2 separate regions of the Homo sapiens genome follow, and region 2 is linked to region 1. The links come from fine-mapping of genetic effects on gene expression. Tissue or cell type: liver. Region 1 holds a variant in brackets; the other region holds the start of a gene. All regions are shown on one strand. Distances are between the middles of the regions.

Region 1 (5,000 bases):
TACAAGCATGCGCCACCCTGCCCGGCTAATTTTTCTATTTTTAGTAGAGATGGGGTTTCACCATGTTGGCCAGGATGGTCTCGATCGCTTGACCTTGTGATCCACCCGCCTCTGCCTCGCAAAGTGCTGGGATTACAGGCGTGAGCTGCTGCACCCGGCCTTTATTTTGTTTTTTTTTTTTATTTTTTATTTTTTAGAGACAGGGTCTTGCTCTGCTGCCCAGGCTGGAGTGCAGTGGTGCGATCACAGCTCACTGCAGCTCAGTTCCTGGGCTCAGGCGAACCTCCTACCTCAGCCTCCTGGGTAGCTGGGACTACAGGTGCACACCACCATGCCTGGCTAATTTTTTTGCATTTTTTGTAGAGACGGGGGTCTTACTATGTTGCCCAGGCTGGTCTCGAACTCCTAGGTTCAAGCAATTCTCCCACCTCGGGCCTCCCAAAGTGTTGGGATTACAGGCGTGAGCCACCGTGCCCGGCCTCTAGGATGGTTAACATGTAACTTTCACGGGGTGCAGTGGCTCACGCCTGTAATCCCAGCACTTTGGGAGGCCGAGGCAGGTGGATCACCTGATGTCAGGAGTTCAAGACCAGCCTGGCTAACATAGTGAAACCCCGTTTCTACTAAAAATAGAAAAAAATTAGCCAGGCATGGTGGCGCGTGCCTGCAGTCCCAGCTACTTGGGAGGCTGAGGCAGGAGGATTGTTTGAACCTGGGAGGCAGAGGGTGCAGTGAGCTGAGATCGCACCACTGCACTCCAGCCTGGGCAACAGAGTGAGACTCCGTCTCAAAAAAAAAAAAAAAAAAGAAAAGAAAAGAAAAGATGTAACTTTCAGGCCGGGCATGGTGGCTCACGCCTGTAATCGCAGCACTTTGGGAGGCCAAGGCGGGCGGATCACGAGGTCAGGAGATGGAGACCATCCTGGCTAATACTGTGAAACCCCGTCTCTACTAAAAATACAAAAAATTAGCCGGGCGTGGTTGCAGGCACTTGTAGTCCCAGCTACTCGGGAGGCTGAGGCAGGAGAATGGCTTTAACCTGGGAGGCGAAGCTTGCAGTGAGCCGAGATCGCACCACTGCACTCCAGCCTGGGCAACAGAGCGAGACTCTGTCTAAAAAAAAAAAAAAGTAAGTTTCCCAAGGTTTCCCTGTGCTGCGGGGAGCGTCTCCTCGTTCCCAGCCCCGACCCTGCAGATGGCTCACCTGGCTGGCCGGAGTCTGCGGCTGTCATGCGCCCAGACTGGAGGGCAGCAGACTGGAAGTACGGCCTGTCCTCATAGCTCCTGGCAGCTGCTGACTGTCCGTAGCTGTAACTGTCCTATGTGGGGGTTTCGGCAGGAGAGAGACAGAGAACGGAGGAGAGCAGCTCAGGCGGTGGGTGCGACGCGCCCTGCCACACTGCACTCTGCACTTAGTCCTTCCTGCAGCGCTGGCTCCTAAGCGTCTGCCCAGGACCAGGCCCTGGCCCGGAGGCAGGGGGCAGGGGGCAGGGGGCAGGGGGCAGGGGGCGTGGTTGACACAGCAGCTGTCATGGAGCCGACACTAATTTCCAAGAGTTCGACTGCAATTTACAAGAGGACGCTTGGTGCGGCAGGAGAGGGCGGGTTTGCAGGGAGAAGCCCCCGAGGCCTTGGCAAGGAAATGGAGAGGGGAGGAAGAGGGTGGGGTCAGGTGGGTGCTGAGCTTGAGTGACAGGGTGGCCTCTGATGCCGTTGACCGACACAATCTGGGGACGAGGTGCGGGTGGCAGAGCTGGGAAATTGGAGCATGGTCACGGGGGACATCTTTGCGACACCAAGTGGGAACACGGTGGCTGGATCTGCAGCCTGAGTGCCTCGGTTGGGAAGGTGAGGTCGTCAGCACCCAGGTGCACCCCACACACCACAGACTCCCTCTTAGAAGGTAGGAATCTGGAGCGTGGGGAAGGTGGGGTGAGTCCTGGTCTCTCTGGGCCCAGGTGGCCGAGGCCATCTGCCCTGACCAGGGAGGGGTCCTGTAACCCAGGCGACCCTCCTCCTCCTTCATAGTCACTGCTGAAGCTGGGACAAAGCTCTGTGCGCCGTCACTGTCCCCACTGCCCCGACGTGGAGGTACGCATGCGGCCTGTCCCCGAGAGCAGTGGATTCTTTCGGAAGCGACTCTGCCCTGATTTCTCCCCACCACGGGTACGCAATGCCAGCAGAAGGGTCCCGAAGGAAGGATCACGGTTAAGAGGCCTGGGAGAAGGAGTAGCTGTGGGAAGCCCACCGCTCTCACCCATGCAAGGCGACCCACGTTTCCCGGCAACGCTGGTCAAAGAAAGGACTGGATACCTGGTAGGTAGCCATGGTGGTGGCCGTGGGGACGGGCTCCTGGGGTCGGCTGCCGTAGGCGAAGTCCTGGCCGGAGTGGGGCTGGTATCCAC[C/T]GTACCCTGCCGGGGCAGCTGGGGGAAAGGCCGGGTTCACGGCAGGGTCCATCCCAGGAGTGGGTTGTGCAGTATAGCTGGCCCCCACAGTGGGCAGGGGAAGGGTCGGAGGCTGGGCGCTAGAACCACAAACACACACCAAAGCCCCACCAGGTTAGAGCGAGTTCTCAGGTGCACTGAGTTGACGGTGTCAATTCCAGCCACCACTGGACCTGAGCTGCCCTGCTTGGTGGAGACCCTCCTAGGAGCCCAGGCACGGCCGGAAGCACTTTACACAAATTAACACCGTCTCACAACAACGCTGTAATGCTGGGCCTATCACTGCACCCAATTTACAGATGAAGAAACTGAGGCACTGTCAGTGGCAGAGCTGGGACTCGAACCCATCTGACTTCCGCTTTGCAGATGATCTACTTGTGTGGCAGGGCTTTTTCTCCATGTCAAGATTCTTCAAAGAAAATTGAACTTTTTTATTTTTTGAGACAGGGTCTCGCTCTGTTGCCCAGGATGGAGTGCAGTGGCACGATCTTAGCTCACTGCAACCTCCGCCTCCCAGGTTCAAGCAATTCTCCTGCCTCAGCCTCCCGAGTAGCTGGGACTACAGGCGCCCACCACCACGCCCAGCCTTTTTTTTTTTTTTTTGTATTTTTAGTAGAGACAGGATTTCACCGTGTTAACTAGGATGGTCTCAACCTCCTGACCTCATGATCTGGCCGCCTCGGCCTCCCAAAGTGCTGAGATTACAGGTGTGAGCCACCACGCCCGGCCAGAAAATTGAACTTTAACAGCACAGTGTCTGGCCGGGTGTGGTAGCTCATGCCTGTAATCCCAGCACCTTGGGAGGCCAAGGCGGGAGGATTGCTTGAGCTCAGGTGTTTGAGACCAACCTGGACAACATAATGAGACCTTGTCTCCACCAAAATTAAAAAAAAACAAACAATTAGCGAGTGTGATAGTACACGCCTGCAGTGCCAGCTACTCAGGAGGCTGAGGTGGGAGGATGGCTTGAGCCCAGGAAGTAGAGGCTGCAGTGAGCTATGATCTCACCACTGAACTCCAGCCTGAGCAACAGAGTAAGACTCTGTCTCAAAACAAACAAAACAAAAAACAGTACAGCTGTCCCTCACTATCTGCAAGGGTTGAGTTCCAGGACCCCCTCAGATGCCAAAATCCATGGATGCTTGAGTCCCTGACATAGAACGATATAGTGTTTGCATATAACCTAAACATATCATCCCATATACTGTAAATCATCTCTGGATTACTTATAATACCTAATACAATGTAAGCACTATGCCGATGGCTGTTACATTCCATTGTTTAGGGAACAATGAGAAGGAAAAACCCCATACATGTTCAGTACAGATGCATTTTTTTCCCAAATATTTTCCACCCTTGGCTGGTTGAATCCATGGATGCAGTGCCTATGAATGCGGAAGGCCAACCGTATTTTCTCTTTAAAAAAAAAATTTGTTTTTGAGAAAGGGTCTCGCTCTGTCACCCAGGTTGAAGTTCAGTGCTACGATCACAGCCCACTGCAGCCTCAACTTCCCAAGCTCAAGCAACCCTGCCTCAGCCTCTCAGTAGCTGAGAACACAAGTGTGAAACCATGCCCAGTTAATTCTTTAAAAAATTTTGGTAGAGGTGGGGTCTCACTATGTTGCCCAGGCTCTGACTGTATTTTTTTTAACAGAACAAGTCAGTCCACCTGAGTATTAAAATAATTACTTTAGTTAGCACTAAACTAATAACTCTTCACTAAAAAGAATGAGTCTTTGTAGGGTTTGCACAGTGCCGAGGCCTTTGTCCACATGGCCTCATTCACCCTTCAGAGGACATGCGGCACCATCGCTCCCCACGGTCTAGACGAGAAAACCTCCAAGGAGGACCAGGGGCTCATGTCAAGTGCAGGGGAGGGTTCAGACCCAGATCTTTCTGACCCCAATGCCCCTTGTTCAGCTAAATATCAGCTACCCAGTAGACAGTTCTGGAGTCTAAAAGCCCATTTGCCAGGGAAAAGTATCAGTAAAGATTTTAGCCCAATACCGCTATGGATATATATTAAAAAGTGAACCTCCAACCCCATAGGGGAAGGAGCAAGGTATGAGGGTCATTTTGGGGAAAATGGATTAGAAGGCAAAGAGGCTCTACACCACCTGGCCCCCAACCGGGCCCTGCTGTAGACTCCTGCCAGCCAGGTGAGTCATCCGCAGTGTCAGGGCCGGGGACAAGGAGACATTCTCTGCGGCACAGGAAAACCTCATGAAAGTTACAGCTTTTTTTTATTTTTTGAGACAGAGTCTCACTCTGTCACCCAGGTTGGAGTGCAGTGGTGCAATCTCGGCTCACTGCAACCTTTGCCTCCTGGCTTCAAGCATTCATTCCTCTAGCATTTTCACACACTTGTCCTGAGTGTCCACATGCTGGACATTCATGAACACCATGACTGTGGACACTTGATGGACACCATGACACAGACACCCGATGAACACCATGACCATGACACTCGATGAACACCATGACTGTGACACTCGATGAACACCGTGACTGTGGAACTTGATGAACACCATGACTGTGGAACTTGATGAACACCAT
Region 2 (7,196 bases), 360 kb before region 1:
CAGGAAGGAGAGACTGATGGATCAGTGGATGGGGGTATGCAGAATGGAGAATGGGTGGATGGGAGTATAGATGGATGTATAGATCAATGAATGAATGTATAGGTGGATGGATGGATGAGTAGATAAGCAGTTGGGTGAATTGATGGTTGCATGGAGGGAGGGACAGATTAATAAGTAGATGAATGGATGAATTGGAGGAAGAAGAGAATGACATACCAATGGATAGGTAGATGGAGGATGAATGAGACTGTAGGTGGGTGGATGGATCAATGAGCTAATGGATAGATAGACTGATGGATGGACAGTTGGAGAGTGAAGACTGCATAGTTCGATGGACGCATAGGTGGGTGGGTGCGTGTATCAGTGAGTGGACAGATCAATGGGCTAATGGGTAGGTGGACTGATGGATGGGTGGTTGGAGGGTGAGGACTGCACGGGCAGACTGATAGATGGATGTACAAGTGGATGGTTGGGTGGATGGATGGAGGATTGAACAAGGCAGAAAGGAAGCTACAGGTACAGGTGCACAGGTGGGATCCAGATCCCCCAGTACATCCTGGGAGTAGGAATCATATTTTACTGGGGCTGAGCCAGGTCTTAGACAAAGCCACCACTCAGGTCCTCTCCCTCAGGCACATCTTGGACTCAGCTGAGACTCTCCCAGCCAGGCTGGTCACCTCCCAGCTCCCACTCTCCTACTCCTGTCCCCAAGCCTTTGCCCAAGACAGAGCCCCCAGCCCTGGATGGATGGATGGATGGATGGATGGAAGGATGGATGGATGGATAAATGGGTAGGTGGATGGATGGCTGTGTGGGTGGATGAATGAGTGAATAGATGGGTGATGGATGGATAGGTGATGGATGGATGGATGGATGGATGGATGGGTGGATGGGTGGGTGGGTGGATGGATGATGGATTGATGGGTGGATGAATAGATGGGTGGGTGGATGGATGGTGAATGGATGGCTGATGGATAGATGGGTGGGTAGATGGATGGGTGTGTGAACAGATGAGTGGGTGGGTGGATGGGTGAGTGGGTGGATGGATTGGTGAATGGATAGGTCGGGGGGTGGGTGAGTGAATAGATGGGTGATGGATGGATGGATGGATGGATGGATGGATGGATCATGGATGGTCGGTGGATGGATGGTGGGTGGGTGGATGGGTAGGTGATGAATGGATGGGGGTGGGTGATGGATGGATGAGTGATGAATGGATGGGTGAGTGGGTGGACGGGTTGGTGAATGGATGGGTTGGGGGATGGGTGAGTGGATGGATGGATGGATGGATGGATGGATGGATGGATGATAGACAGATGGTGGGTGGATGGATGGTGGGTGGGTGGATGGGTAGGTGATGGGTGGATGGGTGATGAATGGATGGGGGGTGATGAATGGATGGGTGAGTGGGTGGATAAGTGGTAGGTGAATAGATGGGTGGGTGGGCAGCTGGGTGAGTGAACAGATGGGTGATGAATGGATGATGGATGGATGGATGATGGATGGATGGATGGTGGGTGATGGATGGATGGGTGAGTGGGTAGATGGGTGAGTGGGTGGATGGGTGAGTGGGTGAATGGGTGATGGATGGGTGAGTGGGTGGATGGGTGAGTGGGTGGATAGGTGAGTGGGTGAATGGGTGAGTGGGTGGATGGGTGAGTGGGTGGATGGGTGGGTGATGGATGGATGGATGGTGGGTGATGGATGGATGGTGGGTGATGGATGGATGGGTGAGTGGGTGAATGGGTGAGTGGGTGGATGGGTGAGTGGGTGAATGGGTGAGTGGGTGGATGAGTGGATGATGGATGGATGGATGGTGGGTGAGTGGGTGAATGGGTGAGTGGATGAATGGGTGAGTGGGTGGATGAGTGGGTGATGGGTGGATGGAAGATGGAGGTCTGCATCCCTGAGTCCTCTGTGGGAATCCTCAGGTTGGGAGGCAGTCAGAGCCATAGGAGGCACTGAGTCCAGGTGGGTCGCCCATACCTAGGCCTTGTACAGACACCTACACAATCCTACACCACAGTCTTCTTCAACAGGTATTTATTAAGCACCTCCTGTGTTCCAGGCCCAATGCTGGGTATGAGGACACAGCCAGGACAAAAGCTAAGTTGCCTACACAACTGGAAGGCACCACGTAATGTCTCAAAATTAGTGAACAACTAAGACAGCTCCACTGGTGATAAGCATGAATCAGACTTGGGGCTGGGGACAGTGTCAGGAAGGCTGGTGGCCAGGCTGGAAACCCCTGACTAGGGACTGGAGGAGGAGAAGGAGCTGCCAGAAGATACAGGAAAGGTGAAGATCCCAGGGCAGGAATGTGTTTGAAGGATTCAGGACAGCAAGGTCATCTGCGCACACCCATTCCCCCACCCCGAGGAGGGGTTCACACAGACCCCCAGCATCCGCACGCATAGTACCTCTGGTCCTGGTATAGGTTGGACTCCATTCTGAACGTGGTCTCCTCCTCGTCCTCAGCCCTGCAGAGATAAAGGGAAAGGTGGAAGGGGGCGGGAGAGGAGAAAGGGGGCGGTAAAGGGAAGGAAGCGGTGTGACAGCCTCAGCCTCTGTCCCAACCTCCCAGCCGGGGCTCATGAACCCCAGGACGCAAGGAAGGGCTGGGCTGCCTGGCTCGTTGTCTTGGGGAGACGGGCGGGTGCAAGCCCGGGATCTGGGCTCTGAGAGTAGAGGTTGGAGGAGCAGCAGGGAAATGGGAGACCTTCGGACTTTGAGGCTGGTGATGGGGGTACCAGAGAGGGTTGGGAAGCTGGGGGTGGGGGCAGGGCTGTGGGGGCAGCGGGGTGGGGGCGGGCACCCACCTGGCCTTGGAACACCAGAGGCGGTTGGCCAGCAAGACCAAATAGACGATGAACAGGAAGCCGACTACCGCAGCCAGGCCCACCAGCCACGGCTTCAGGCGATGCTCCGTGGCTGCAGGAAGTTGGGGAGGTTCGACTCAGAGGAAGAAAAGGTCAGAAGACCCCCTTCCCCCACCACCCTAGCAAGGAGAGAGAGAAGGTCACTGGGGGTGCTCCGACAGAGGGGGTATTGGAAAGGGACGGAGCTTCAGAGACCTGGATGGCGTAGGGGGGTCGGGAGGGTTTAGAGAGGGGGAGGGTACCTTACCAGAGTGGGAGGGAGCCTGGGGGCCCAGAGAGGGGAGGGGCTTATAAAAGAAGGGGGGCTTAGAGGGGACGGAGTTTACAAATCAGGAGGGCTCAGAAGGGGCGGGGCTTATAATGCAGGCAGAGGCTCAGGGGGAGGGGCTTATAAAGGCGGACCTCAGAAGGGCGGGGCTTATGACAAAGGAGTGGCTCAGGGGTGGGGTTTATAAAGGAGAACAAGCTCAGGGGAGGGGCTTATGAAGGAGGAGGTGGCTCAGATGGGGAGGGCTTATAAAGAAGAGTCTGGGGGGTTGGGGCTTACAACAGAGGAGCTGTTGGGGGGAGCTTATAAAAGGAGGCAGAGGCTTAGAGGGAGGGGCTTATAAAGGAGGAGCTCAGAGGGGAGGTGCTTATAAGGGGAGAGGGTCTCAGAGTGGGAGGGGCTTATAAAGGCGGCAGAGGCTCAGGAGGAGGGGCTTATAAAGAAGGAGGAGCTCAGAGGGGAGGGGCTTACAACAGACGAGGGGCTCAGGGAGGGGTCTATAAAGGATGAGTGAGAAGGAGGGGCTTACAGAGGAGGAAGAGGCTCAGATGGGGAGGGGCTTGTGAACTAGGGGGCTCAGAGTGGGAGGGGCTTGTAGAGGAGGCAGAGGCTCAGGGGGAGGGGCTTATAAAGAAGGAGGAGCTCAGAGGGGAGGGGCTTACAGAGGAGGAGGGACTCGGGGAGGGGTTTATAAAGGAGGGAGAGTGAGAAGGAGGTGCTTACAAAGGAGGAAGGGGCTCGGATGGGGAGAGGCTTGTGAACTAGGGGGCTCAGAGGGAGAGGGGCTTATAGAGGAGGCAGAGGCTCAGGGGGAGGGGCTTATAAAGAAGGAGGAGCCCAGAGGGGAGGGGCTTACAGAGGAGGAGGGGCTCGGGGAGGGGTTTATAAAGGAGGAGGAGTGAGAAGGAGCGGTTCACAAAAGAGGCGGGGACTCAGATGGGGAGGGGCTTGTAAAGGAGGCCCGAGCTCAGAGTGGGGCCGAGCTCAAGGCGGGGGGTTCAGCCAGGTGTGCTCAGAAGGGCTGGAGAGGGGAAAGGCTCGGGTGGGCGGTGGGGGGTCCCTTACAGAGGAGGGCAGAGCCCAGCGAGAGGGAGGCCGGGCGGTACTGCGGGGGTTGAGAAGGGCCTCCAAGCCACTCTTCCTTTTCTTCCTGCCCCCTCTCCTTTTTCTCGCCATGGAAAATTGGGAGATGGTGATCACCTGACCAACTCCCCTATCCCGCGACGCCCCCTCCCGCCCCCCTGCACCTACCCTGCTGGGCCTCCACCGGGGAGAGGAGCAGAAACTCCAGCACCAGAAGGGCCCCCAGGGTCTCCATGACGGTCGAGTGAGCCAGCAGCCAGCCAGCGGCGGTCCCGGGTCGGCGTCCACAGGTTTGGTGTGGGCGAGGCCCTGCCTCCCCGTGATAAGGCACAGGCGGTCCCCGGGCGGGGGATGCCTGAGACCTGGGAGCGGGGCCCGCCCCTGGCACCACCTGATTGGGCATCCTGCCCCTCCCCTGCCAGCTCCTGCCCCATCGCTCTCCCTCCGGGAGGCCAGACTCTGGACCTGTGTAACAATTAACTGAGGGAGTCCCTCCTCCCTGCACCCTGCCCTGGGGACCATCAGCCTCAGGGCCACCCCTTTGTGATCCCTGCTGCAGGGGCTGAGCTGAGATGGCTGCGACCTCCCGTCCCGGCCCAGGCCCCGTGCCACTCTGGACACAGGGGGAACTCACAAATACAACTGGAATATCTTAAGAAGGGTGCGCCCACCCAGTGCCTCACACCTGTAATCCCACTACATTGAGAGGCCAACGCGGGCAGATCCTTGAGCCTAACCTGGGCAACTTAGTCAAGCCCTACCTCTACAAAAATAGAAAAATTAGCCAGGCGCGGCGGGCACCTGCAGGCCCAGCTACTAGGGTGTGCTGAAGTGGGAGGATCACTTGAGCCCAGGAGTTTGAGGCTGCAGCCAGTTATGGCCGCACCACCGCACTCCAGCCTGGGTGACAGAGGAAGACCCTGTCTCAAAGGAAATAAAAAAAATTAGAAATACAAAGAGTTACCAAGGCTGGGTACAGTGTCTCACGCCTGTAATCCCAGCACTCTGGGAGGCTAAGGCGGGAGAATCGCTTGAGGCCAGGAGTTCCAGACCAACCTCCTCCCGTCTCTAAAATAAAAAATGTAAAACTTAGCTGAGCATGGTGGCCTGCACCTGTAGTCTCAGCTACTCAAAGAGACTGAGGTGAGAGGATCGCTTGAGCCCAGGAGTTCGAGGCTGCAGCGAGCTACGACTGCACCACTGCATGCACCACCGCACTCCAGCCTGGGCAACAGAACAAGACCTTGTCTCTCAAAGCAAATTTGAGAGTCACCTTTTGTGCTCTCAGAGTACACATGAGGCTCCGTGCTCGGCAATTTCACAGATCGCATTTCCTTTTCTTAACACCCCGTGAAATGGTGCCGGTCTCATTGTGCCCAGGAAAGTCAAGGTCACGCAGCAGGTCTGACCTGGGATTTGAAGCCGGGTCTGCCTCGCCCCCAGCTTATCCTGCCTCGCCCAGGCTCTTGGCCCCTGAGGACCCACAAGCAGCCATGGGAGCACACAGGGACAGGGAAGGTGTGCAGAGGCCACATGCCCGTGGTCCACCTGCAAACCGGGACGCTCTCACGTGGGGATGCCCGGGAGCGTTGATGACTCAGGCTCCAGGCTCTCCTGTCCTCAACCTTGGTCCCTCGGCTGATTAGATAGTGGGCCCTGCCCGGGCGAAGGGGGACCCCGCCCCAGCTGACACGGGAGCAGCCATGGCCCAGACGAGTGGTAGGAAGGCCCGGCGTCATCGCACAGGTGTTTATGGAGCGCCTGCTGAGTCGCTGTCACTTCCTCTCTTCCGGAGGTCTGCGGATGACCGCTGAGCAGACCGGCCACTCAGCAGGATGGGGCTCACACATCCCAGCCCCAGGATGGCCACAGGTCTGCTTGAACCAGCCAGGCAGGCATCTATTAAACTCTGACTGTGTATCCCGTCTTGTGCAGGGCTTGGAAGAGAAGGAGGCCTTGGTGCTGTCTGGGAGCTCTCGATCTGATTAGGAAGTCAGGACCACCCCCCAGAGACAAGCAAACCCAGCAGCCGAGGCGGGGGCTGGAGAAGATTTGGAGGTAGGGGAGCCCAGCAGAGGGGGTGGGGGCAGGACCCGCCTTGGAGATCCTGCCCTCCAAAGTCAGTCAGTTGTCTGGGCTTTTTCTGAGAAAAGCACTCTGTGCTCTGAGACCTTGGCGAAGCCACTTCATCACTGCGTGCCTCGGTTTCCCCATCTGTTAAGTGGGGGCGATCAGTCCTACCTCGGAGGATTAAATGAGATACTGCATAGAAAAAGCCTGCTCTGCACAGCAGCAGGTACACGCTAAGCACTCGGTAAGGTTGGCCGATAATATTACAACGTTTTAAATCGCCCTAGTGTTTCTAATTCACAGTTTGCTGACGGCTTGGCTGAGGCTGAGCCGGGCAGGCTCTGCGTATGTGAAAGTCGCCAGCGTCCAACCCCCGGAACCTGCCGGCTGGGAAGGAGAAAGCCGTCCGCTGCGACCGGGCAGCTCAGGGTTTGCAGAAAGGGCTCCGGCGCGCGTAAGTTCTGTCTACACGACCGCCAAAGCGTCCGGAACCCGGATTCAGGATTCAAGTTGCCATCAGCTTCCAGAAGGAGCTTCGGGATGGGGGGTCCTTGAAGGCAATGGAGGGGCGGCGGGGCTCCGGGGGAGGCGGGGGTTCAGAGGGGGCTCCCTCCCCACCCCCGCCGGCGTCCTCCTCGCCCTGCCAGGCCAGGGCCAGCTGCAGGTCCAGCCCCTCCAAGTCCTCGCCGGTCAGGCTGGGGCGCAGCTCCCGGGGTGCGGCCTCCTGGTCTGGCTTCGGGCCAAACGCCCAGTCTGCGGCAAGGGAGCTGGTGAGGCAACTCCCCGGCCCCGGCCACCCTCCTCTGTCCCCTCCTCAGCTAGGAGAAGCACTAGGATCCCCTGACCACCCACCCAGGGTGACCCAGCATCGGCCCCAGCTGGGTTTCGGTGGGGGC

What was found. PIP is the estimated chance that this variant, and not a neighbour inherited with it, causes the effect.
Region 2: SMIM24 starts here. The variant in region 1 is fine-mapped to the expression of SMIM24 in liver (GTEx, PIP above 0.99).

Annotation. Positions count from the first base shown.
Region 1 is chr19:3,832,460-3,837,459 of GRCh38, forward strand. It overlaps ZFR2 (zinc finger RNA binding protein 2), which reads right to left. Exons shown (of 19, transcript NM_015174.2): 2 at 2,314-2,524; 3 at 1,205-1,319. Among named protein-coding and RNA genes, the nearest start is that of ZFR2, 34 kb to the right of the region's middle. The variant C/T (reference allele first, on the strand shown) is at 2,406.
Region 2 is chr19:3,475,999-3,483,194 of GRCh38, forward strand. It overlaps SMIM24 (small integral membrane protein 24), which reads right to left and starts at 4,527. Exons shown (of 4, transcript NM_001136503.2): 1 at 4,399-4,527; 2 at 2,820-2,931; 3 at 2,421-2,480. The coding sequence starts at 4,465. It overlaps SMIM44 (small integral membrane protein 44), which reads right to left. Exons shown (of 2, transcript NM_001395954.1): 2 at 6,112-7,053. The coding sequence ends at 6,806. LOC105372246 (a long non-coding RNA gene) reads left to right here and starts at 6,980. Exons shown (of 5, transcript XR_936264.2): 1 at 6,980-7,196.